Linked DNA regions of Homo sapiens. The protein of the gene in region 3 purifies or fractionates together with the protein of the main gene of each other region. This does not show direct contact. Each region holds a gene or a part of one and is shown on either strand. Other genes may lie near its edges. The genes, in order: GCN1, XPOT, SLC27A4, SPCS2, UGGT2, FHIP2B and CALU.

What was found.
Region 1: the proteins of SLC27A4 (region 3) and GCN1 purify together in Homo sapiens (affinity purification with mass spectrometry; one large-scale study listed by BioGRID and IntAct). This does not show direct contact.
Region 2: the proteins of SLC27A4 (region 3) and XPOT purify together in Homo sapiens (affinity purification with mass spectrometry; one large-scale study listed by BioGRID and IntAct). This does not show direct contact.
Region 4: the proteins of SLC27A4 (region 3) and SPCS2 purify together in Homo sapiens (affinity purification with mass spectrometry; one large-scale study listed by BioGRID and IntAct). This does not show direct contact.
Region 5: the proteins of SLC27A4 (region 3) and UGGT2 purify together in Homo sapiens (affinity purification with mass spectrometry; one large-scale study listed by BioGRID and IntAct). This does not show direct contact.
Region 6: the proteins of SLC27A4 (region 3) and FHIP2B purify together in Homo sapiens (affinity purification with mass spectrometry; one large-scale study listed by BioGRID and IntAct). This does not show direct contact.
Region 7: the proteins of SLC27A4 (region 3) and CALU purify together in Homo sapiens (affinity purification with mass spectrometry; one large-scale study listed by BioGRID and IntAct). This does not show direct contact.

Annotation. Positions count from the first base shown.
Region 1 is NC_000012.12:120,128,716-120,132,215, reverse strand, and holds part of GCN1 (stalled ribosome sensor GCN1), read left to right. Parts: intron 1-193; coding exon 194-290; intron 291-882; coding exon 883-1,031; intron 1,032-1,462; coding exon 1,463-1,570; intron 1,571-2,721; coding exon 2,722-2,940; intron 2,941-3,500. UniProt on the Homo sapiens protein: Ribosome collision sensor that plays a key role in the RNF14-RNF25 translation quality control pathway, a pathway that takes place when a ribosome has stalled during translation, and which promotes ubiquitination and degradation of translation factors on stalled ribosomes.
Region 2 is NC_000012.12:64,403,083-64,407,191, forward strand, and holds the start of XPOT (exportin-T), read left to right. Parts: upstream 1-1,309; 5' UTR 1,310-1,722; exon of another isoform or gene 1,723-2,678; intron 2,679-4,109. UniProt on the Homo sapiens protein: Mediates the nuclear export of aminoacylated tRNAs. In the nucleus binds to tRNA and to the GTPase Ran in its active GTP-bound form. Docking of this trimeric complex to the nuclear pore complex (NPC) is mediated through binding to nucleoporins.
Region 3 is NC_000009.12:128,357,527-128,359,748, reverse strand, and holds part of SLC27A4 (long-chain fatty acid transport protein 4), read right to left. Parts: intron 1-2,222. UniProt on the Homo sapiens protein: Mediates the levels of long-chain fatty acids (LCFA) in the cell by facilitating their transport across cell membranes. Appears to be the principal fatty acid transporter in small intestinal enterocytes.
Region 4 is NC_000011.10:74,955,766-74,959,265, reverse strand, and holds part of SPCS2 (signal peptidase complex subunit 2), read right to left. Parts: intron 1-3,500. UniProt on the Homo sapiens protein: Component of the signal peptidase complex (SPC) which catalyzes the cleavage of N-terminal signal sequences from nascent proteins as they are translocated into the lumen of the endoplasmic reticulum.
Region 5 is NC_000013.11:95,854,402-95,857,901, forward strand, and holds part of UGGT2 (UDP-glucose:glycoprotein glucosyltransferase 2 precursor), read right to left. Parts: intron 1,940-3,500; coding exon 1,757-1,939; intron 75-1,756; coding exon 1-74. UniProt on the Homo sapiens protein: Recognizes glycoproteins with minor folding defects. Reglucosylates single N-glycans near the misfolded part of the protein, thus providing quality control for protein folding in the endoplasmic reticulum.
Region 6 is NC_000008.11:22,099,150-22,102,280, reverse strand, and holds part of FHIP2B (FHF complex subunit HOOK-interacting protein 2B), read right to left. Parts: intron 2,998-3,131; coding exon 2,921-2,997; intron 2,578-2,920; coding exon 2,388-2,577; intron 1,688-2,387; coding exon 1,542-1,687; intron 1,438-1,541; coding exon 1,309-1,437; intron 842-1,308; coding exon 751-841; intron 574-750; coding exon 430-573; intron 306-429; coding exon of another isoform or gene 267-305; exon of another isoform or gene 219-266; intron 137-218; coding exon of another isoform or gene 107-136; coding exon 1-106. UniProt on the Homo sapiens protein: Able to activate MAPK/ERK and TGFB signaling pathways. May regulate the activity of genes involved in intestinal barrier function and immunoprotective inflammation. May play a role in cell proliferation.
Region 7 is NC_000007.14:128,742,359-128,745,858, reverse strand, and holds part of CALU (calumenin isoform a precursor), read right to left. Parts: intron 1-3,500. UniProt on the Homo sapiens protein: Involved in regulation of vitamin K-dependent carboxylation of multiple N-terminal glutamate residues. Seems to inhibit gamma-carboxylase GGCX. Binds 7 calcium ions with a low affinity.

The DNA.
Region 1 (3,500 bases), on a different chromosome or scaffold from region 3:
CTCCATACCAGTGGCAGCCCAATCTGGCAGGGGAGCACGAGTGCCTACAGGAAGGACTGGATCTTGAGTCTCTGAGTTGGCTTTTCCACCTTCTTTGTTGCTGTCCATCCTGGGCTCTAGAGCTGCCTGCCTTGGTTCCCACACAGCTGGTGTTGTTCCCTGCACCCCCTCACTCCCTTCTCTTCCCTGTCAGGACAACACTCGCATCTCCTCAGCCGGGTGCCTAGGGGAACTGTGTGCCTTTTTGACTGAAGAGGAGCTTAGTGCCGTTCTACAGCAGTGCTTGCTGGGTAAGTACACTGGAGAGTTCCCCTTCAGGGACCTGGGCCTCTCAGCCCTAGCGAAGAGTCGACGGGCATCTCCCTCCCTCCCTCAGAGGATCTTTTAGCAACTGGACTGTCCTTTCCTTGGGAATCCAGCAGTTAAAGCAAAATCCAGGCCAGGGGTGGTGGCACTCACCTGTAGTCCCAGCTACTCAGGAGGCTGAGGTGGGAGGATCAGTTGAGCCCAAGAGTTGAAGGTTGCAGTGAGCCTTGATCACGCCCCTGCACTCTAGCCTGGGCGACAGAGCGAGGCCCTGTCTCTAAAACAAACAAACAATACTGAATTTGCAGTGGTCCCGTAGCCCTGAGTGTCTCTGCTCAAAGAACACAGCTGTAAGCCCGGAGTGGTTCATGAGCAGGCTTTCCTTACTTTCCTTAATGTGCCACTTTGGGGAGCTTCTGCCAAGATAGCAGGGAGGTCCATGTGAATGTGGCCTGGAGTTTTCCTTGTGCTCTGGGTCAGCACACTGGTCTCCAGCGGGGTGGGCCCATGGGCCTCATGGGTGCTGGGGACATGCTGTAAAATACCGGTTGATCCCAGTCGTGTCCTTCCACCCAGCGGACGTGTCCGGCATTGACTGGATGGTTCGGCACGGGCGGAGCCTGGCACTTTCCGTGGCTGTGAATGTGGCTCCTGGCAGACTTTGTGCCGGCAGATATAGCAGTGATGTTCAGGAAATGATCCTGAGCAGTGCCACGGCGGACAGGGTAAGGCATTCGGGCCATATCCCATAGGCATAGGCCACATCCCATAGGCAGCACCTTGTGGACACAGCGCGGGTGGACCCCAGACTGGGGCTTAAGAAGCTTGGGTCTAATTTTACCTTTGTCAGTAACTTGCTGTGCCCTTGGACCAGCACTTGATCCCTTTGGGCCCCAGTTTCATCATCTAAACAAGGAATTTGGGTTGAAGAATCTAGATGCCCCTTCTGGGTCAGGTCTTGGATCCCTGTTCCTGGGAACCAGTGACTGTACTCATCTGCCTCAGCCGGGGCAGCCTGCCTGAGAGCTGTCATGGTGTAAGGGGTGATGTGGTGGTGATGTAGTGGAGGGTCCTGGAGATTACTAGGAACTGGGGTTTTCCTGGCTCTGGGGAAGGGGTGGGGGGCCTCCCGTCTAGCGCTGTCTGTTCTCCACAGATCCCCATTGCGGTGAGCGGGGTCCGGGGCATGGGCTTTCTCATGAGACACCACATCGAGACAGGCGGAGGGCAGTTGCCGGCCAAACTTTCCAGCCTGTTCGTTAAGGTGAGTGGGGGCCAAGCATGTGTTTAAGCCCTAACACCTGGCTTGTGAGGAGGTCCTAGGATCAGAGACCACCAGCAGTGCGCCCTCAACTAGTTGTGTGCTAGTTCTCCGTGGACGGCCTCCAGGAGATCGCTGAACACTTAGGGATGGAATGTAGGGGGTTTCTGTGTGTGCTTTACACTGCAATAAAGCCTAACTTTTTGTCAGATTCTCAAATTGACCCGTGACTCTGAATCAAGTTAGGAATCGCTATTTTAGGCATTCTTTCTAGGCACCGTAGTTTTGTAAAATTAGATACAGACCTGGGTTCCCATCTTAATACCTCTCTTTTCCCTCCTTCCTCTTCTAGTTGGCCCAGCACTTCTTGGTGTGGTTACTGTGCTATGTGCCAGGCCCTAGTTAGGAAAGCCAAGGAATGTGCCAGCAGGGCTCCTGTGGCCCGTGTGATATGGCGTGCTTCTGAAGCATTACTGTGCACAGAAGTCAGAGCCAGGGTGTATTTTAGTGAGATGGGGCCATGCCTGGTACTCTAACCAGCTCTCAGCAACAGTGTCAGTGGTGCTGTGCATGGACCTTGCCTTGAGTAATGAGGTTCCCAAGAGTGACTGCCTCCCCCCGCAGCACCGGGAACCCACGGAGTTTCTGAGGGGCCTGATTCGATTGAGCCTCGTCTGTGATGACATCAGCCTGCACCCGCTTGTTCACTTGGCATTATCCTGAAGGTGTAGAGATGAACAAGGCAGACAGGATCCCTGGAGCCCATGGGGAGGACCCTGATATAGATAAGATTGGCAGGGGGCACCTCTAAAGGATGACATGGGAGCTGAGACCTGCAGGATGGGAAGGAACTAACCTAGAGAGGATCCGGGGCAAGCACGGCCCAAGCTGTGGGACCAGCCAGGGCAGAGGCCCGAGGCCCTGGGATGTTGGAGGAAGTAAAAACGCATGCGGGCTGAGAGTAGTGAGCAAGGGGAGAGTGGCATGAGATGAGGGTGCAGGAAACCAGGGTCGAGTCATGCTGGGACCCTCCCACAGGAGCAGGGGGGGTCAGTGTTCATGCTGTAGGGAGAGTGTCGAGGCTGGGCATTTGGGCTGCTTCAAGGAATAGATGACATGCCTATCCAAAAGCCTGTTTGTGGTTCTTTTTACAGTGTCTGCAGAACCCATCCAGCGACATCAGGCTGGTGGCTGAGAAGATGATCTGGTGGGCAAATAAGGACCCACTGCCTCCCCTGGACCCCCAGGCCATCAAGCCCATCCTGAAGGCTCTTCTTGACAACACCAAGGATAAGAACACCGTGGTCAGGGCCTACAGCGACCAGGCAATTGTCAACCTCCTCAAGATGCGGCAGGGTGAAGAGGTGTTTCAGGTGGGAGCCTGGGGGGCCTCACCAGGATGTGCTGTGAGCATTTGTCTTTCAGCTCTTCTTCAGCATGGAAATATTTAAACCACAGGCTCTTCTCTGCCACCACGGATGTGCTAGCTTTCAGGAGCAGATTAAGATTTGGGTGACTGGGGCCGGGCGCGGTGGCTCGCGCCTGTAATCCCAGCACTTTGGGAGGCTGAGGCGGGCAGATCACCAAGTCAGGAGATGAAGGCTAACACGGTGAAACCCCGTCTCTACTAAAAATACAAAAAAATTAGCCAGGCGTGGTGGGCGGCTTTGTCCCAGCTACTCAGGAGGCTGAGGCAGGAGAATGGCGTGAACCCAGGAGACGGAGGTTGCAGTGAGCTGAGATCATGCCACTGCACTCCAGCCTGGGCGACAGAGTGAGACTCCGTCTCAAAAAAAAAAAAAAAAAAAAAAGATTTGGGTGACTGGCCCAGTACCTGAAAACATACATTCCCATGGTTTTCAGACTTCTTTCCGAGCAGGGCCCTTTCTTCAAATAAAATCTCACATGACACCCAAACAGACATAGCAGATCC
Region 2 (4,109 bases), on a different chromosome or scaffold from region 3:
CTTTAGCGACATCTTGTAGCCACTAGCCTGACATTTTAAACACATAAATTAGAAACATGATGCAAGAGTGATTCAAGGTATTTTATATAGGAAATGCCTGGTGTAGTGTCTTGGACAGCTAAATAAAGGTAGCTGTTAAAACATTAGTTTTATTCTATGCTCTTACCATTCCTCCCTCTCCAAGTTTTGTTTGTAGTCTGTGGCAGCAACCTAGTCTGTATTTAGTACACATTGAATAATCAACAATGAAATGTAAATATTGAGCACATTGTGTGTCAAACACATGTATTAACTCAAACCTCACAGAAACCCTTTGAGGTCGGTACTATTAACAATCCCCATTTTACATACGAGTAAACTGAAGCATGGATAGACTAAAGTAAAGTGCCTGAGGTCAACTAGTGAGGAGGCGGAGTGGCAGTCAAGTCGAGGCAGCCTAAGCCTACACTGCCTCTATGTTGCATTAATAAATTAATAAATCTGTGACCAAATAAATGAAGTGACATTTAGTAGCATCGAAAGATCCCGTGAGTAGGACTTCCTAAGAATGCTCTCCTTCTTTTCATGGACAAAATTTTAGTCTGTTTAAAATAAATTTTGGACCGGACACCGTGGCTCACGCCTGTAATCCCAGTACTTTGGGAGGCCGAGGCAGGTGATCACTTGAGGTCAGGAGTTCGAGATCAGCCTGTCCAACATGGTGCAACCCTGTCTCTACGAAAAATACAAAAATTAGCTGGGTATGGTGGCGCGCGCCTGTCATCCCAGCTACTCAGGAGGCTGATGCAGGAGAACTGCTTGAACCCCGGAGGCGGAGGTTGCAGTGAGCCAAGATCTCGCCATTGCACCCCATCCTGGGCGACAGAGCGAGACTCCGTCTCAAAGAATAAATAAATAAATTAATTAATTAATTTTGAAAACCTGTCAGCACTCATCAGAGCTTTACACTGCTGTACTCGGGACACTTGGGGCCGTAGACAAGCAATTAAATTGACTCACACGTGGTTAGAACCACGTCATCCTGATTCGTGAATCCGTACTCTCAACTACTAGAAGCCCTTTGTGGAATGCTCGGGGCGAACCTGACGCTTGAGCTCTGACACCACGCAGACACAGCCGGGGATTTAGGAGCTGGGTAGGGACTCCTGGGCCGGATGCCTCATCCCGGCATGCACCTCAAGCCCCGGTGACCACGCCTTCCGGCGAGCGCCAGGGAGCGCGTGTGCGCCTCGCCGCCCGGAAGCGCCGGCCGCTCCCTGCATGCTGGGAGTTGTAGGCCTCCGGCGTCAGCCCGCGGGCTGCCGCCCGCACTCTCCAAGAGACTGCTGGCGCCGGCGCCCGCCCGCGCGGCACCGACGCGGGGAGCGCGCTTCGCGCTGACTCAGCGGCGGCGGCGGCTGCGGCGGCGGCGGCGGCGTTAGCCGGCCCTCGCGCTCTTTCCCTTCCTGGGGCGCCGACCCCGCCCGCTTGCTTGCTTGCTTGCTTGCCTGCCTGCCTGCCTGCCCGGCGCCACGCAAGAGAAGGTGCCAGGGGACGCAGAGCGACTAGAGGCGCGCGGTCCCGGCCAGCACCGTCTCTGGCGTTGTAGCTGCGGCCGTGGCGGAGGACTACGGCGACAAGGACGAGGGCCGCTCTCCCAGCTCTCTGCGTGCCGCGCCGCTCCGCTCCGCTGGCTGACCATCTGGAGTGCAGGCTGGGAGGCGGGATGGAGTGATAGGGAAGGTGACTCGGGGCTCGGGGGCAGCGGGACCGGGACCAGGTTTGGTCCGCGTGAGGCTTCGAGGAAGTTGGCCGGGGCGGACCGGCCCGGGGGAGTCCCGACGCCAGGGAGGGTGCAGGCTTGGGACCCTCTATGGCGGTGCACCCCCTGGCTGGGCGGACCGGGTGGGGGTGGGTACGAGCCGGGGCCGCCGCCGAGGAGCGCGTCCCGAGTGCGTGGCCGGCGGTTGCTTGGTGTTTCATCACCCGAATTGCCACGAGGCTTCCTTTAGGGGAGGGATCGGGGGAGGGATGGGAGCAAGGCTAGCAGAGGAGGGTCGGCATCGCCTGTGGTTCCGAAGCCCGTTAGTCATCGTTGTAGCGTTATCAACTGTGGAGACCTCAAACTTGATTCTTCCCCCACCCCTGGACAAAAAGGAAAAGTGTTATTTCTGTGCAGTAATTGGCCAGCACGGACGCTCCATTTCTTCTCAAACCTTCCTCACCATCCTGCAGGACTAGAGAAGCATGAGGTTTCCCTGTAACCAGAAAAACGAGTACTTTTTGAAAGTGCTAATTAGTTGTGGCGGGCGGGGGTTGGGGGAGAGTTACGTTTTATTAAACCGACTTGTCAGCGTGGTGTTAAAAGGCTGGAAAGATTCAGTCGTAGTATTTGAAACAGTCTTCAGTAGGTGTAGAGGAATTTTTCCAAATTGTTTGATTCTTAATGGCTATCCAGGAAAAGTTAAGGCTTAATATTTTAAGTATGTTGCTTGCCTTCCCCCAAGAACCTTTGCAAGATGCATAATTGTTTACCGTATTGAAACATTTTTTGGGGTTTTGTTGTTGTTGTTTTGAGACGGAGTCTCGCTCGGTCGCCCAGGCTGCAGTGCAGTGGTGCCATCTCGGCTCACTGCAACCTCTGCCTCCCAGGTTCAAGTGATTCTGCAGCCTCAGCCTCCCGAGTAGCTCTATTACAGGTGCGCCCCGCCACACCTGGCTACTTTTTGTATTTTTCGTAGAGATGGAGTTTCACCGTGTTAGCCAGGATGGTCTCGATCTCTTGACCTCGCGATCCGCCCGCCTCAGCCTCCCAAAGTGCTGGGATTACAGGCGTGAGCCACCGCGCCCGGCCTTCCACTGCATATTGATCGTCCAAATGCCTTCTATGTGGGGGATTCTTTCTGTAGTGACAACTGTTAACTAGTTTGTTTCCTTGGGTTTATTGGCTATGTTTTCCTTAGGGCCACTTCATTTTTCTCCCGATAGCTTCAGAGTGACTTGACCAAGCTTAAGCACTTTTTCTTTTTTTTGACACAGTGTCTCACTCTGTCGCCCAGGCGGGAGTGCAATGACACGATCTCCGCTCACTGCAACCTCCCCCTCCCGGGTTCATGCGAGTCTTCTGCCTCAGCCTCCTGGGTAGCTGGGATTACAGGCGCAGGCCACCATGCCCAGCTAATTTTTGTATTTTTAGTAGAGACGGCGTTTCACCGTGTTGGTCAGGCTGGTCTCGAACTCCTGACCTCGTGATCCGCCCACCTCGGCCTCCCAAAATGCTGGGATTACAGGCGTGAGCCACCGTGCCCAGCCAGCAATTTTTTTTAGATGGAGTTTCGCTCTCGTTGACCAGGCTGGAGTGCGGTGGCGCCATCTCAGCTCACTGCAACCTCCGCCTCCCGGGTTCAAGCGATTCTCCTGCCTCAGCCTCCCGAATAGCTGGGATTGCAGGCATGTGCCACCACACCCGGCTAATTTTTGTATTTTTAGTAGAGACGGGGTTTCTCCATGTTGGTCAGGCTGGTCTCGAACTCCCGACCTCAGTTGATCTGCGCCCCCCTCCCCTCGGCCTTCCTTAGTGCTGGGATTATAGGCGTGAGCCACCCTGCCTGGCCAGCATTTTTTTAAAAAGCCATAGCAAATTCAAGGAAGCTTTTATTGGACTTCTCAATCAGGGATTCTTAGAAACTCCGAAATCGTTTTTTCTCTCTGTGGGCATTTTTCAGGGGAATGGACATCAGATTTTCTTAACATTTAGGGGGCGAAGGGAACCAGTGCCTTTCTTTGTGTTTTTCTGTCTTTTAAAAATGCTGATCTGGTATAAGAATGCCCCAAGTCGTTTCCATTCCACATGTTCCTACCTCTGACTATAAACAACGTATTGAGGGCTCACTATGTGCCAGCCATGCTCTGCATACCTTATCTCTTTGAAGCCTTTACAACTTTATGAGGCATATGGTCTTTTTCCCATGTCATAGAAAGGGTTCTCTCAGGTTTTGTAAGTTGTCCAAGTGGCCCCAATTAAAAAATGACAAGATGGGGATACAAACCCAGGTCTTTGAAATCCAAAACCTATGCTCTACTATGTCCTAGGGACATAGTGATGGATAGTCAAGACAGTCCTTGCCCTT
Region 3 (2,222 bases):
ACTGCAACCTCCACCTGCCGACCTCAAGTGATCCTCCTACCTCAGCCTCCCAAGTAGCCAGGACTATAGGTGTGCACCACTGTGCCTGGCTAAGTTTTGTAATTCTTTCTTTCTTTCTTTATTGGAGACGGAGTCCTGCACTGTCACCGGGGCTGGAATGCAGTGGCACGATCTTGGCTCACTGCAACCTCGGCCTCCCGGGTTCAGGCGATTCTCCTGCCTCAGCCTCCCAAGTAGCTGGGATTACAGGCACCCACCACCACGCCCAGCTAATTTTTTGTATTTTTAGTAGAGACGGGGTTTCACCATGTTGGTCAGGCTGGTCTCGAACTCCTGATCTCAGATGATCCACCCTCCTCGACCTCCCAAAGTGCTGGGATTACAGGCGTGGGCCACTGCGCCTGGCCAAGTTTTGTATTTCTTGTAGAGATGGGGTTTCGCCATGTTGCCCACCCAGATCTTGAACTCCTGGGCTCAAGCGAGCTACCTGCCTCAGCCTCCCAAAGTGCTAGGATTACAAACATGAGCTGCCACGCCTGGCCGCATCTTTCAATCAATGGTATTAATCCTGTACAGATGAGAAGACTGATGCTCAGGGTGGTAGAACTGGGATTGGAACCTGGATGAGACAGACTACCAAAAATGGCTGCAGATTCCTCCCCTCCCTGTACACACACACCTCTGCTATGTGGCTTTGGCACTTCTCCTGGCAAGAGCTCGACTTTTTCAATCTCCATTGGCCTCAATCTGGACTGGCTTTACAACTTGCTTTAACCAACAGAAGGTGGCAAAAGCAATGTTGTAGGAGTTCTGGGTGAGTCTAGGCCTCGGGGGACCTTGCATCTTCCACCTCTACCTGCTTGGGGGTGCCCTGGGGCTAGTCTAGCCTTCCAAAGGGTGAGAGGCCACGTGGAGCAGAGATGAGCCATCCCAGGTGAGGGCCCAGACCGGCGCCGTCCAATATGACCTCATGTGGCTATTTACATTTAAATTATTAAACAAGGCCAGGCATGGTGGCTCACGCCTGTAATCCCGGCACTTTGGGAGGCCAGGGTGGGCGGATCACCTGAGGTCAGGAGTTCGAGACCAGCCTGGCCAACATGGCAAAACCCCATGTCTAATAAAAAAAATACAAAAATTAGCCAGGTGTGGTGGCACGTGCCTGTAATCCCAGCTACTGGGGACGCTGAGACAGGAGAATCACTTGAACCCAGGAGGCAAAGGTTGCAGTGAGCTGAGATTGCACCACTGCACTCCGGCCTGGGCGATAGAGCAAGACTCCATCTCAAATAAATAAATAAATTTAAGTTAATTAAACAAAATTTAATCCCAAAGTGTTGGGATTACAGGCGTGAGCCACGGCGTCCAGCCAGCAGCCACCTTTCAAGTGCTCAGTAGCTCTGCCAGGCTAGTGGCTACTGTGTTGGACAGCAGAAACCTAGAACATTTCCATCGCTGCAGAAAGTTCTGTTGGACAGTGCTGCAGAGGTAAGCAGCCGAGAGCCAGACACGTGGGTGAGGCCATCTAACTGCCTCTTGCCCCAGCTAAGTTACTAAGTGATGACCCCAAAGCAAGGTCAATAGAAGAACTGCTCAGCTGCACTTAACCCCTAAATTGCTTACCCACAGAATTATGCATCAATAAACTGGTTGTTTCGAGCCATTTTGGGGCAAGTAAGTTTGGGGGTGGTTTGTTCTGCAGCAAAGCCCATCTGAAATACAAGGTCTGAGAGCCTCCCTGCCTTTCCTGGACAGAAGTATGGTGCTGCTCAATCCTCCGGAAGCTCATGGTCTTGGCCATTAGCCTGGCCACAGTGTCTCCAACCTTCAGAACCACACTGAAGTCCTAAACCCTCCCCGATGCTTTAGGCACTCCAGGTACCCACTCTCTGGCAGAAGCCACATTGGCTAGGGAGTGCCCACCATCAAGGCAGGACTGATATGACGACAACGTGGGAGGTGGCCAGGGAAATGTGCTCCAAAGGGTGAGCAGCCAGGGAGGGCCCAGAAGAGGCACCAAGGGCTGAGGAAAGCAGGGGCAGGTATGGGCATGAGCCTCAGCATTTCCTGCCCACCAGGGAACTCTTGAGAGCCACCAATGGGCCAACAGATAGAAAGATGGTGCTGCCTTGTGGGCGACTGCGGGCCCGCTGCCCACCTCCCACCTGGACAACTGCAACAGCCCCTCCCTCGTCTCCCAGCTCCCTCAGGGCTGCCTGCAA
Region 4 (3,500 bases), on a different chromosome or scaffold from region 3:
GGATTGCTTCATAAAGTTCCCTGGCTTGATAATAAGACTCAAAGGATTCCTCAATTCACACTGGAGAGATGAAGAATTACCAAGGGTGAGAGTGGTGTCAATGGTGACCCTGTTCTGATTTAGACAGAACTGAGCATGGCTTTAAGAAAAATAAACTTTTTCTCTCCTTTATCCCAGTTTAGAAAGTAGACAGAAGCTGCAAAGGGGGAAAGTAGTAGGAGATGAGGCATCCGAGAGAAACCATTTCCTAGTTATTAGGCTAAAGAACTTGAACTTTATTCTGAAGCAGGCAATGGAGAGTATTTTAAGCATGGGAATAACAATCAAATTTACGTTTTTTTTTTAAGTCATTTTAGTGGCAACCTGGCAGATGATCTGGAGGGGAGTAACACTGGACATAGAGATGCAGATGGGGCCTGATGTAAGTGCAGAGCCTCAATGCTCAACAGAGCAGCAGTAGGGGGACTGAAAGGGAGTATTCTGAGGTAGAATTGGCAGGACTTAGTAACAGACTAGTTATAAGGAACATGAAAGAGAAGAGACAGAGATGACCACCTACTAGAATTAGGGCTTGGATGACTTGTTGGAGCCATCATGTCATTTTCCAAGAAGAAGAATACAGGAGGAAAAAGGATAAATACCCATTTGTATATGTGGAGTTCTAAACTAAAATAAGGAGATAATAAAAACTGATGGCAAACTCAGAAGCTGAGATTACAATTTCAGTTGGAAATATATAGTGCCTATATCCCCCCCACACACACATATTTAGCAAGAAAGGAAAATGTTCAGTTTGGGAAGAAAATGATGTCTATCTTAAGAATGTGCACTGTCATCTAATTTAGATCCCAATTCAGCAAAAACATGGTATCTCAAAGAGATTATGCTCTTAGCAACACACTGAATCTTCAATTTCAATCTATTTTTTATAAAAATGGCCAAGATACACTGCAAAGAAAATTACTAGCTTAACAGTGCTTATTACTGACTGCATTCATCACTGGAGTTAGAAGTTAGGAAATTACCATGTGTTAATTAAATTATGAGCACACACATTAGTGACAACCCCAGAGAAACTGATTCTTAGGTTTTACACTGCCTTCTCTACTCCACCACAAACTGCATTTAGCAGTGACGGGGCTGCTTCTACATCAACCCAGCCCATGAATAGAGAAGCCTACATGACTGAAGCTCTTTGAGGGCCAGATCACTGGATCCATGACTTAAACATCCCACCACTGAACCCAGTAAGTGTGAGATCTAAGGCTGAAAAGAGCTTAAAGTTAAAACAACTTGATTCAGCATATTAATCAGTAATGCTCCAACAACGAAGTATTTTTTTCTACCAGCAAACTGAAATGTAGTCAACAATCCTTTCACTACTAGCAACTAACATCTTCTAAAGTCTGACTGAATTGTTGGCATAATCATCCAGTATGAATTTCTTACCTTTGCAATGGGTAGACAAGAAATCAGATATACAAAAAAAATGGTCTTTACAATTTAGTTAAGGAAAATCCTATACTTACAATGAATTATAAACTATGCTAAGTGCTAAATGGTAAGAAGTAGACATAGAGGGGCAAGGGCACACTACAAGTTCAAGGATCTGCAAAAAAGATTTTGGATAAAATGTTACCTATTTCCTCAGGGATATCAATCTGCAGCAAAGCTGACTGGGGAGGGTTGGAAGAGAGAGGGATGCTGCCAAGGAAGACCTGAATTAAGGCACGAAGACTGGCTAGGAATGTACTACATTGATACAGATGTGCGATGAGTCCTTATTCTAGAAAGGTGGCAGATCACGTGCTCCATTTAAGAATTACATGCAATCAGTTCTGAAAAATGCAGCTGAGTGCAAATTCAGGGAGAGGACCATACAGCCGTTTCATCTGAAATCCATCTCCTACTGCCTGGAAAAATATTAACTGTTATATGACTTTTCTGGGTTTCTTTTTCTTTTTAAGGAAACTGCCAAGCCTCTCAATAGCAATTCATTCCAGTGTTGGACATTCTTTTAAAAGAAAAAAATAATATTTTTAAACACAACCTTTATGGCAATTACACTCTTTATTTTCTTTAAATTAATATTGAATGGCTGCTTGCTATGTGCCAAGCACTGTTCTAGCCACTAGGGATATAGTCATAAACAAGACAAATTCTGCACTCAAAGAGCTTCTTCTTGTATGGAAGATAAAAAGTAAACAAATACGCATATAATTCCAGGCTCTAAAAAAGATTATACAGAAAAATGCAATAGAGTTTTTAAAAAGACTAAAAAATAGTGAGGGAAAATAGTTAACATCTGAGCAGAGTTGAATAAAGGAGTAACCCATGAGAAAATCTGGAGTGTCCCAGTGAAAACAGTACACCAAAATCCCCCAAGCTTAACGTGTTTGAGGAACAGCAGAAAAGCCAGGGTTTCCAGAGTATAATGACTCAAGCAGAAACTGACAGATGAGGATGACAGAAACAAGCAGGATCAAGAACATGCAGGGGCTATAAAATAGGCCACAATTAGGGATTTGGAGTTTAGCTAACTGAGATGGGAAGTTACTGGAGAGATTCAGCAAGAGAGTGAGTGATCTATGTTTTAAAACATCAGTCTGGCTGCTGTGTGGAGAACAAAATGTAACGGAGCCAAGCACGGAAGCTGGAAGACCAGTTGAAAGGGCTACTACAGCTCTCTAGGTAGGAGTGGTCAGATTCTGGATGTACAGCCAGGAAAATACGACAATGAGATGGCTGTGGAGTACAAAGCAAAGAGAAGAATCAAGGGTAACTCTCAGGTTTTTGTTTGAATAAATTAGATGAATGGAGGTATCTACCTGAAATGAAGAAGACTGGGAGAGAAGCACTTTGAGGGGTAAGCGGAAATCAAGAGATTGGCTCTGGCTATTGATGCCTGATACATGTTTTAGACATTTAAGTGGAGATGACAAGTAGGCGGTTGGACAGAAAAGTCTGGGACTTATAGGAAAGGTCCAGGTTGAGAATATAAATGTAGAAGTCAGCAACTTCTACATGTTATTTAAGTCATGACATTGGGTATCACCTTGGGATGAGGGTAGACAGAGGAGAGGGCCAGGGGTAATAAGCTCATAAGCTCAGGGACTGGCAATATTTACACAGGTCAGGAAGAAGACCAAAGAACAATGAAGACAACAAAGACTAGTTGACGTAGGAGGAAAGCTGGGGGCAAGTGGTGTCCTAGAAGCCAAGTAAAGAAAGTATTTCAAGAAAAAAGAAGTGATCAATAAGTCAAATGCTACTGAAAGGCTAAGTAATATAAAAAACTACTATTGAAATTTGATAAGATGGAGATCAGAGCAGAGAAATGGTGCTAGCAACAGCTGAAAAAGGTACCTAGGCAGGCAGATATATATATATATATATATATATATATATATATATTTTAATTAGTAATTAAAGTAATAGTATTAAAGTAATCAGTGTCTGTGATACCACTGTGTTACATGACATATAGTTTAAAGAAATAA
Region 5 (3,500 bases), on a different chromosome or scaffold from region 3:
CAAAATGGAGTATACCCATAAGGAGCTCCATCCAGATCGAAATCTCGAAGTTCTTTTAGATCATGTCTCACAATCTAAATAATTAAAATAGACTGTCTGATAAAGACTGTAAAATAACATAAGCCCTTTTTTATGGGAATCTCAAATCATTATTACTCTACTACAGAAATCCAAAGAGCTGTATTGTCCTCACAGTGCTTTCATGTAATATGAATTTACTGAATTTAACATTTATTCCTCTTGTCCTTACAGGTTAAAGGTAAACTAAAATTTATATTCCTAGTCTTTAAGACAGTGGTCTTACTCACCAACAAGAATATTTTGTTATGTCATTTATAAACAAGTCATTTTACGAATCAGACATTTGGGGAAGGGGTTAAATATTACGTAAGTGCAGAGCTCTTAGTTTCTCAATGTATGAATAACAAAATCATTCCATGCCAAATCTCCATTATTGTATATTGGCAAATGTTAAGTTTGAATCATAAAGAAAAATCTCCCAATTATTCTAAATAGCTTGAATAAAATAATATAAATGTTATTTTTTAATATGCTCAAGCCTTCTAGAAAAATATTAGTGCACACATTGAAAGAAAGGTAGGAGAAAGAATCATATTAGATATTATGTGTGGGGCTCAGATGGGAGGATTGCTTGAGGCCAGAAGTTTGAGACCAGCCTGGGCAACACAGTGAGACCCTGTCTGTAAAAAAAAAAAAAAAAAAAAAAAAAAAAAAATTAGCCAGGCGTGGTGGTGTGCACCTGGAGTTCCAGCTCCTAGGATGCTGAGGTGGGAGGATGGCTCGAATGCAGGAGTCTGAGGCTACAGTAAGCTATGACTGTGCCACTGCACTCCAGCCTGGATGACAGAGTGAGACCCTGTCTCTTAAAAGAAATTGAAATATACTTTTTGTTCCACATAAATTCTAACTTATCCATTTACTTTATATTTTCATTTACATATTACTTTTTTCTTAGAAATTCTGTGTATTTTCAATTTTTTTTTCCCACTAATGATGCAAAAGCAATGCAAGGAGGGAAAAAGGAAAAGTCATAATTTTTGGACATATAAATTTTGAAAGCAGAGGGCCTTGGGTGTTTTTTTTTTTTTTTTGGCCAAATTTATTTGCTTTTATTTTTAGAGATAGGGTCTCACTCTTTCACTCAGGCTGGAGTGCAGTGGCATGATTATATCTCACTGTGACTTCTAACTCCTGGGCTCAAACTTTCCTCCCCACCTCAGCCTCCAAAAGTGCTGAGACTACAGGCATAAGCTGGCCAAATTTAAAATGCTCTTTTCCTTAAGAGATAGAGTGATGAGAATTTGGTTATTGGTTGAATGCGAAAGAATGCTGTTGAAGGTGGAAGAATGAGAGTTGTATGTAACTGCTAGCTTTTCTAGCAAGAAGAAATTCCTAGTTTTAAACAAATATCAGCACATAATTTACAGGAATTCATTAACTACTCTTATTATGACTAATATAAGTATTTGTTTTAGTTCTCAAATGTAAAAAACTACTACTTTAGAGAGAAAACTTCCATGTCCTAAATAATAAATGGTACTTCTTACAATACCTTCAATTTTCCCCTGGAATTCTGACTTTTTGTTTTTAAAGATACTTTGCTTATATATCACAATCGTATCTTAAGCACCGTAATGAAGATAATAAACATGAGCAACATGAATTAATCTCTATATTAAGATAGAAGTGTAAAAAATGTTTGCGTATTACTAAAAATAGTAGTTAACCTTATTACCTGGTCAGCATCAACAAAAATGATTTTGTCCACTGCTAGTGGGAAAAGAACATCAAGGAAAAGAATTTTGTAACCCCAAATAATCCTCTGTCTTTCAGTCTGTTGACGAAGCCAACGGGGCCACCTATATTGAACTAGTTCATATCGGAATCCATACTCTTTAGCCATGTGAGGAATTACTTCCTAAAAACACACACACAAAATCAAACAATATGTTCAAGAGAAAGTAGTTTTGTTTTAGAGAAAAAAATAACATTAAAAAGGTAAAGCTTCCTATAAATTGTTATAAACTAATAGGCAAGATGTCTAAATACTACTTCTATAACATACTTATTAATGAGAAATATTAAAATGCTAACAAATATGAAATCACAAGTATAAATAAAACTATATAATTTAACGTCATTAAAAATAAGTGCACTATATTATTTAACAAACTTATTAATGGAAGATAAATGTTCCCATACTTTTATTGTTAACATCTGACTTGAGAAAACTGACTTAAAAAAAAGCCTCTGGATCTTGGAACACCTACATATCAAATAGTTCATGTATATGTCAACAGGTTGGTTGGTCAGAGATGTAAAGATGAAGAGAGGATACAAAAAACACAAAATAAGTTCTAAGCTGATAAATTAGATTCTATACAGGAGCTTCATGTTTGAGATATATCATTATTTAATTCAAGGATTAAAAATACAAAGTAGTGATTATGGTCTGAATATTTCATATTTGAGTATCTTATAGGCTTAGAAGTAGCTTATTCCCTGTTTAAAGCAGAAGCAGTTAATGAAATATACTGTGGGCTAAATTTAGTTCAAGAGCTCAAATACTGAGAGAGAAAATGAAAAAGGAATTGGAAAAGATGAATTAATAAATATAGAATTTGCGTTTTACCACTTGATTCTTACTTGAAACTAGTTTCTGGTTATATGTTTAATTTTTTTCTCTGACTTTGTAAGAACAATGTAGATTTAAAATACTTTTTTTTAAATGCAAGAAGCACCAATTTTATCTGTGAAATCTTGAAATTAGGGGTACAACAGCTGCCAGGAGTCATTGTTTTGGTTTCAAAATAAAATAAAATAAAACATTCAGATAAAATAAAAAGAATATTTTTTCTTCATTAAATATGTGTCCAAATATTCACTGAAACGGGCACTGTTCTAGGATCTAAGGGTACATTAGTGAACAAAAGAAATACAAATTATGACCTTCATGAGGCTTGTATTTTAGAGGAAGTAGGTAGAAATAAACTATTATCTACAGAAAAAAGTGCTATGAAGAAAAATTAAAAGGGAGAGGGAATTATAGTTTGTATAGTGCTGTCAGAAAATAATTATGTGTAAGTATGTATAATTTTAGCAAATATTTGAATGAAGAGAGGAGGTTTGACTTTTCTAAACTGGTAGGAACAAATCTAAAGTAGCTAGCGGCTTCTGTATCTGGCTGCTGATTTACACAGATGTTTGAGTTTGTAAAAATCCAAAGCTAAATTTCATGATTTGTGCACTTTTCTGAGTATATGTTATATTTCACTAAGAAGTTTTCAAAAGAAAAATTTTGAATGAAAGAAACACATCACAAAAAGAAGGAAAATACTACTTCAGATACAGTATTTCTTTTGGCCATGCAGTGGAACAAGACTTTCTAATCCAGACATAGCACTATTGTTCTGGTGAATAATATCTTTTCCTGCTAAGAGAATCTTTAGATTTTTCTATCTCAGTTTATTTGGGTTAAA
Region 6 (3,131 bases), on a different chromosome or scaffold from region 3:
GGGCCAGGCTGATGTACGGATCCAGCAGGTACTCATGAATATGGGGGTGGGGGAAGAGGGCAAGCCGGGACAGGACCGAGGTCACCTGCAGGTTCAGGCTGTATGGCTGTAGGAACATGGTGGACAGAGCCGAGGGCTGGCAGGGCTGGTGAGTATTTTTGCACTCCCCCAGCAAGGTGCCTGGCCACTGTGAACGTGTGTGGGGGTGGGAGGCTCACGTGATGTGTGTGTGTCATGGATTCCATGGGGCTGAGGGCCAGAACGTGTTAGGACGTGTGGAGCAGGGGTGAGACGGGGCTTCCCACCTGGGGAAAGGACAGGGGTGGCACCAAAGAACCGAAGCAGAGGCAACCCTGTGGCCAACCTCTGCTCTTGAAGGACCCCAGAGGCACCAGCCTGGAGTTCTCCTGGCCCAGGCCCACTAGCTACCTGATCCAGAATCCGGGACATGCGGTCAAACAGCACTCGGAGGAAGTGGCCCTCGAAGAAAGGTCGCTCGGGCTCATGGGGGTCCAAAGGTGTGGGGGTCAGAGGCCAGCCCCAGGAGGCGACGCGGGAGCTGCACTCCTGGAACTGAGACAGGCGGGAAAGTAGAGGCAGTGGGCCTGGGGACTGGGAACCAGCAGACAGGGCCCCACGCAGGAGGGATGGGCTGGGGTCCTTGGGCAGATGAGAGAGGCGGAACCCAGAGCTTATGACCCAGCTGTTCTGAAGGACAGGAAGTGGGAGCTGGTAGCAGGAGCCACTCACCAGGCCATAAGCATCGTGGACGTATGTGTCATAGCCTGTCTCCTCCAGGAAGGCAGAGGTCTTGGCTTCCTCGGGGACCAGGCACAGGAAACTGAGAGATAGAAGCCGGTGTGGAGGCGCTCCCGGCTCACCCTGCTCTCCCCTGCTTGTGGGACCCCATCTCCCTCCCTGACTGGACCCCAGGGCTGTGGCCAAAGAGTAAAACTCAGGGCAGGCACGGTGGCTCATGTCTGTAATCCCAGCACTTTGGGAGGCTGAGGTGGGCGGATCACCTGAGGTCAGGAGTTCGAGACCTGCCTGGCCAACATGGGGAAACCCAGTCTCTACTAAAACTATAAAAATTAGCTGGGTGTGGTGGTGCATGTCTGTAATCCCAGGTACTCGGGAGGCTGAGGCACAGGAATCGCTTGGATCCGGAACCCGGGAGGTGGAGGTTGCAGTGAGCCGAGATTGTACCACTGCACTCCATCCTGGGTGACGGAGCGAGACTCTATCTCAAAAAATAAAATAAAATAAAATAAAACTCAAGTGGTTCAGACTGCCTAACTTGCTCCCCACCTGTTGACGATCTCGGTCACTGCTGTTTTGCCATCGTAACTGGTAGCAGGAGCTAGGCGAGGCTTTGCGGGAGTTTGAAAGCCGGAATCCAGGAAGCTGTCGGTGAAGTAGGGGTCTTCCTCCAGGTCTCTGTGGCCAGGGCAGAGCAGTACGGCACCAGTGAATGAATGGACAGAGTGAGCGTGCGAGTGCTAAGGGCTGGGCTGAGTCCAAAGGGCGCCGGTTTCACTTACAGGGTGTCCTCATAGCTCTCAGGCTCTGGTGAGCCCCAGGCCACGTAAGGGCGGCCCTCAAGGTTGCGCAGGACCAGGCTGTGGATGATCCCCTCGTGGGGCTTCTGCAGCAGCTCCTCAAACAGCCGGAGTGTGGTGATGCTGATCTGGAGCAGGAAGGGGGTCGGCAGGATAGCCCCTTCCCCACCCAGCTCCCAGGGGTGCCTTGGCATGGCTAACCCAGATAAGAAAAGACCTCTGAGGCAGAGTCACCTCCCTTGGCTGGATGCTAAGGTGGCAGGTTTTGGGGGTAGTTGGGGGGTGTGGGCCTAGGAATCCAGAAGTCTGGGTGGTCCCTGGTATGTGACTAATTTGATGTGCAATTTCAGGCAAGCCAATTCGCTTCTCCGTGCCTTACTTTCCATGTCTGAGAAATGGGAGTATCAACCTCGCCTACCTCACGAAGTAGTACGTGTTAGCCTTCCAGCGAGCCAAGTGTGCAAAATATAAAATACTGTAAAAAAATAAGCTGGGAACAGTGGCTCATGCCTGCAGTCCCAGCACTTTAGGAGGCTGAGGTGAGAGGATCGCTTGAGGCCAGGAGTTGGAGACTGCAGTGAGTTATGATCACACCTCTGCACTCCAGGGCCTGGGTGATAGAGCAATACCCTGTCTCTTTAAAAAAAAAAAAAAAAAGTATATGATCATAGAAAATTAGTGTGTGATAAAAGTGGCTCGGCAGTGTTTTGCAGTTCAGTGTCTCAAAGGTGGAGTCAACTGGGAACACTAATGAAATGGGAAGAGTGTTCAGGAAATCCCTCTGGCAGGGGTGGTGAGAGGAACAGAGATGGAGGTCCCCCACTGTACCTCATCAGAGAGGTGGTCACAATGCCCGATGAGATGAGCATACAGGGTGTGGGGGTTGTCCCCGGGGGCTTCAGGCTGCCGGTCTGTGCCCAGGAGGAAAGCCACGGCCTCCCGCAGCAGCGCAGGGGAGCGAAGCTGGCGCAGCATGGCTGTGAGGAGGGCGGTGGAGGTCAAGATGCTCTGCTCGGACCTACGGGAAGAGGGCACCTTAGCCAGGCCCGGTGTGTGCAGACAGCACATGAGTGCGGGTGGCCGAACCCTTCCTGCTTGCCTCGCATGTTTGGCTGGTATGTCTGTGGTCACTTGCCCATCCCTGCTGAGGTCCTGCAGGGAAGGGTAGGAGGCCTTCGTTTAGCCCACGTAGCTCAGAGCCACGTGCACATCATGGGGCAGGCCTGGCAAACATCACCCAATGGGGTCCACAAATGGGATTCTGGTCAAGAAGGTGTCTGGCCTTAGGGACAGGACGAGGCTGGGTGGGGTAGGTGGTTTACTGTAGACCACAGTCATGCCTGAGGGAACTAGACACTTACACGTGCAGGAGCTGGGGCTGCAGGGTCTCCACGAAGAAGTTCTCAGCCACAGCCTTCGCCAAGGCGTCCGCAACCACCTGGGTGCCAGAGAGCGCCAATGTGTTTTGCCCTCATTACAATTCCAGCTGAGAAATAACCGTGTTCTTGCGCGGCGCCTGATGCCACAGGAGAGGGTCCCGGCCCGCCTGGGGCCCCGCTTAGCTCCTGGACC
Region 7 (3,500 bases), on a different chromosome or scaffold from region 3:
TGTACTGTCTAATTTGTATGAACAGCACACTCTCATGTTTATTAGCTTTCTGTGTGCACCACTTGTAAAATATTGCTCTGGGTGAACAACACTCTGGCTGACCCTCCAATAATTCAACTGATCAATCAAATCAGTTAAAGAGTAAACAGAAAATCCGAGATTTAGCGGCTCTATAAATACAACATTAAAGTGAGTATGCCTTTACTTCAGGGCAAAATGAAACTTCTATCTCAAACTATAAACAATTCTTTTTTTGAGACAGGGTCTTACTCTGTCACCCAGGCTAGATATAGTGGTGTGATGATAGCTCACTGCAGTCTGGTCCTCTGGGGCTCAGACCATCCTCCCACTTCAGCCTCCCAAGTAGCTGGGAATACAAGTGTGTACCACCATGCACAGCAAATTAAAAAAAAAAAAATGTTGTAGAGTCTCACTATGTTGCCCAGACTGGTCTCAAGCGATCCTCCAGCCCTGGCCTCCCAAAGTGCTGGGATTACAGTCGTAAGCCACCATACCCAGCCTATAAACAAATAATTCTTTAGATAAACAAAACTTTGGAAACAAAAAACAGAATTATATGTTGTTGATGTTTTGGGATATATCCCAACAATATGTATAGTGACAGAGGCTTGCAGAATCAAGTAAAATCAAGAGTCACTGCAACAAAGGATTTTCCTTATGCCTAAGGGGACTTTATCTTTAGGAAAATTTTACAAATGATTACATTCTCAAAATAAAATATAGCATAATACCCTAACAATTCTTGCCAACCCCAAATATTACAATATGAATAAATACTTATGCACTCTAACATAATCTGGTCCTGGAAAGGATACTGTACCAAGTTTTGAGACATGTAGCATACAGAAATGTAATAGATTGGTTTACTCTGTGATTTAGAGGGAAAACTACATTTATGTTTCAGGCTTAATATCTTGATACAAGGATACCAGAATTCCAAAGAGTAGAAGCCAAGTGATTTAGCTTTATCACTCACCCATTTCTCCTTCCTTCCCCTCTCCTGAATAAACTTTCAATCTCATCCCTTAAACAGGCTCCTCCATTCTGTCAATCAGTGCTTCTCAGGTCTCCACTACCCACAGTCTTTCCCAGACTGTGCTGTTCCTTCATGCTTGCTCCTCCCTTTCCCTCACCCACAGTTTCTACCCTGCTGCCTCTGCTTCCTCACTGTCCAATGCTACCCTGAAACCTGGCTTCCTTACTATTGATGAAACTGCCTACAACGGTCATCAAGGACCCAGATGGACAAAGCCAATGGTCCATCTTTACTTCTTTATCTTTCTGCAGGGAGGAATGAAAAATCTGCACTTTAAAGAAGTTCTACTTAAAAAAAAACAAAACGTCCTTTGTGCCCACATATATAACAACTCCTGGCTATTAGAAACTTTAACAAAGCCCTCTTGTTTTATGAATATAGACACTAAAAACAAAAAACACCATCCATACCAAAAACTGTACTAGATTTATCTAAAACCATATGGTTTTTGGTATGGAGCATGTATGTTCAAGCAGAAACAAAGGACATCTAAGACAAAGGATATCTTACGTGGGAAGATGTGAAAGGAACAGTAAAAAATAACTTCATACACAGCATTTGAAAATCTACTTTAGTGCACTTCGTTTTCTTTTGTTGAGACTGAGTCTGTCTCTGTTGCCCAGGATGGAGTGCAGTGGTGTGATCTTGGCTCACTGCAACCTCCACCTCCTGGGTTCAAGTGATTCTCCTGCCTCAGCCTCCTCAATAGCTGGGATTACAGGCATGGTCTACCACGCCCGAATAATTTTTGTATTTTTAGTAGATACAGGGTTTCACCATGTTGTCCAGGTTGGTCTCAAACTCCTGACCTCAAGTGATTCTCCCGTCTCGGCCTCCCAAAGTGTCGGGATTACAGGTGTGAGCTACCATGACCAGCCAGTACACTTCATTTCTGAAGCATCTTTGTCTTTTCAACCAAATTGAAACCAAATGATACAAAGTTAATGGCCCTTCTCATTTTCCTCACCCACTTCAACACTTTATAAAAGTTTAGACTGGGCCAGCAGCAGTGGCTCAAGCCTGTAATCCCAGCACTTTGGAGGGCCAAGGCGGATGGAATGCTGGTGTTCAAGACCAGCCTAGGCAATCCCATCTCCACCAAAAATACAAAAAATTAGCTGGGTGTGGTGGCGCAGCTATAGTCCCAGCTACCGGGGAAGCTGAAGTGGGAGGATCGCCTGAGCCCCGGAGACACGAGGTTACAGTGAGTCATGATCATGCCACCACACTCCAGCCTTGGTGAGGGAACAAGACCCTGTCTCAAAAAAAGAAAAAGAAAAAAAAAAGTTTAAATTGGATACTTTTGTCCAAAAAGTAAAAAAAAAGTTTAGAGGAATAGGTACAGATCACTTCCAGCTGGAAAGATCTTTGTGTATCCATTGGGCCATACATACTGATCACAATACTGGTCCAATGGATATACTATGGACATAATGGACAACATAATATTAGGAAAAATATGATACACATAAACAAAAGACTTAGCTGTATGAGCTTTTATCATGTGATCTAGAAAGTAAACCAATGGTTGTGAAAACTGAATTTCCCCACCTCCCATTTCTCAAATGAGTTTCTCTCTCTAAAATTCTGTCCCTCTTCCACGAAGGGTAACATCTAATATTTTTTTCTTGGGAAAAAAAAAAAATCTAGGCCTGTACTGCCCAGTACAGTAGCCACTAGCCACATGTGACTACTAAGCACTTGAAATGTGGCTAGTGTGAATTGCGATTGGTATAAGTGTTACATTTCATATTGAAAGAATGGTATTTTATATGTATTAGATTAAACATTATTAAAATTACTTTCACCTGTTTTAGATTTTCACCTGAAAATTTAAAATTACATATGTGGCTTGTATTATATTTTTATTGGACAGCATGTTAGACACAAACCAAAAGATTAGAACAGAAAATATATCCAGTAGCTATCATCCTTTTGTAGTATTAGTATGTCACCAATAATGGTCTTCTATAAAGTTGTTTTCATGAATCGTTCCAGTAATTTATAAAGAGAAAAGCCTAACTGGGTTAAGTGTGATTTTAATAATAATGAGTCTTAAGAATTGGTTTCTTCGATCCATCCAAAAATGTCCTTAAAAGCTCTAAATTCTTATCACTTCTCCCTACCCCACCCTTCAGGTAAGAACTTAGAGCTTTCAAGGAAGTTTTTGTCCTTAGTGTCCATAGTGTATCCATTGGACCAGTATTGCGAGCAATACATGGCCCAAACTTTCAATTTTGGTAAAGTGCCATTGGTCACAGAATACTTAAATTGTTTCAGGGAAATTTAGATGTTTAAATTCAACTTCACAAGAACGTTAACACTGAGTGATCCAACAGTTATTATGGTTGACCAAAGACCCATTGCTCAATGTTAACAATTGGGAGAAATGGGTGTGGTAGTAAAATTCCAGTTCTCTGAGCTGGATGGATATTCACCAGAA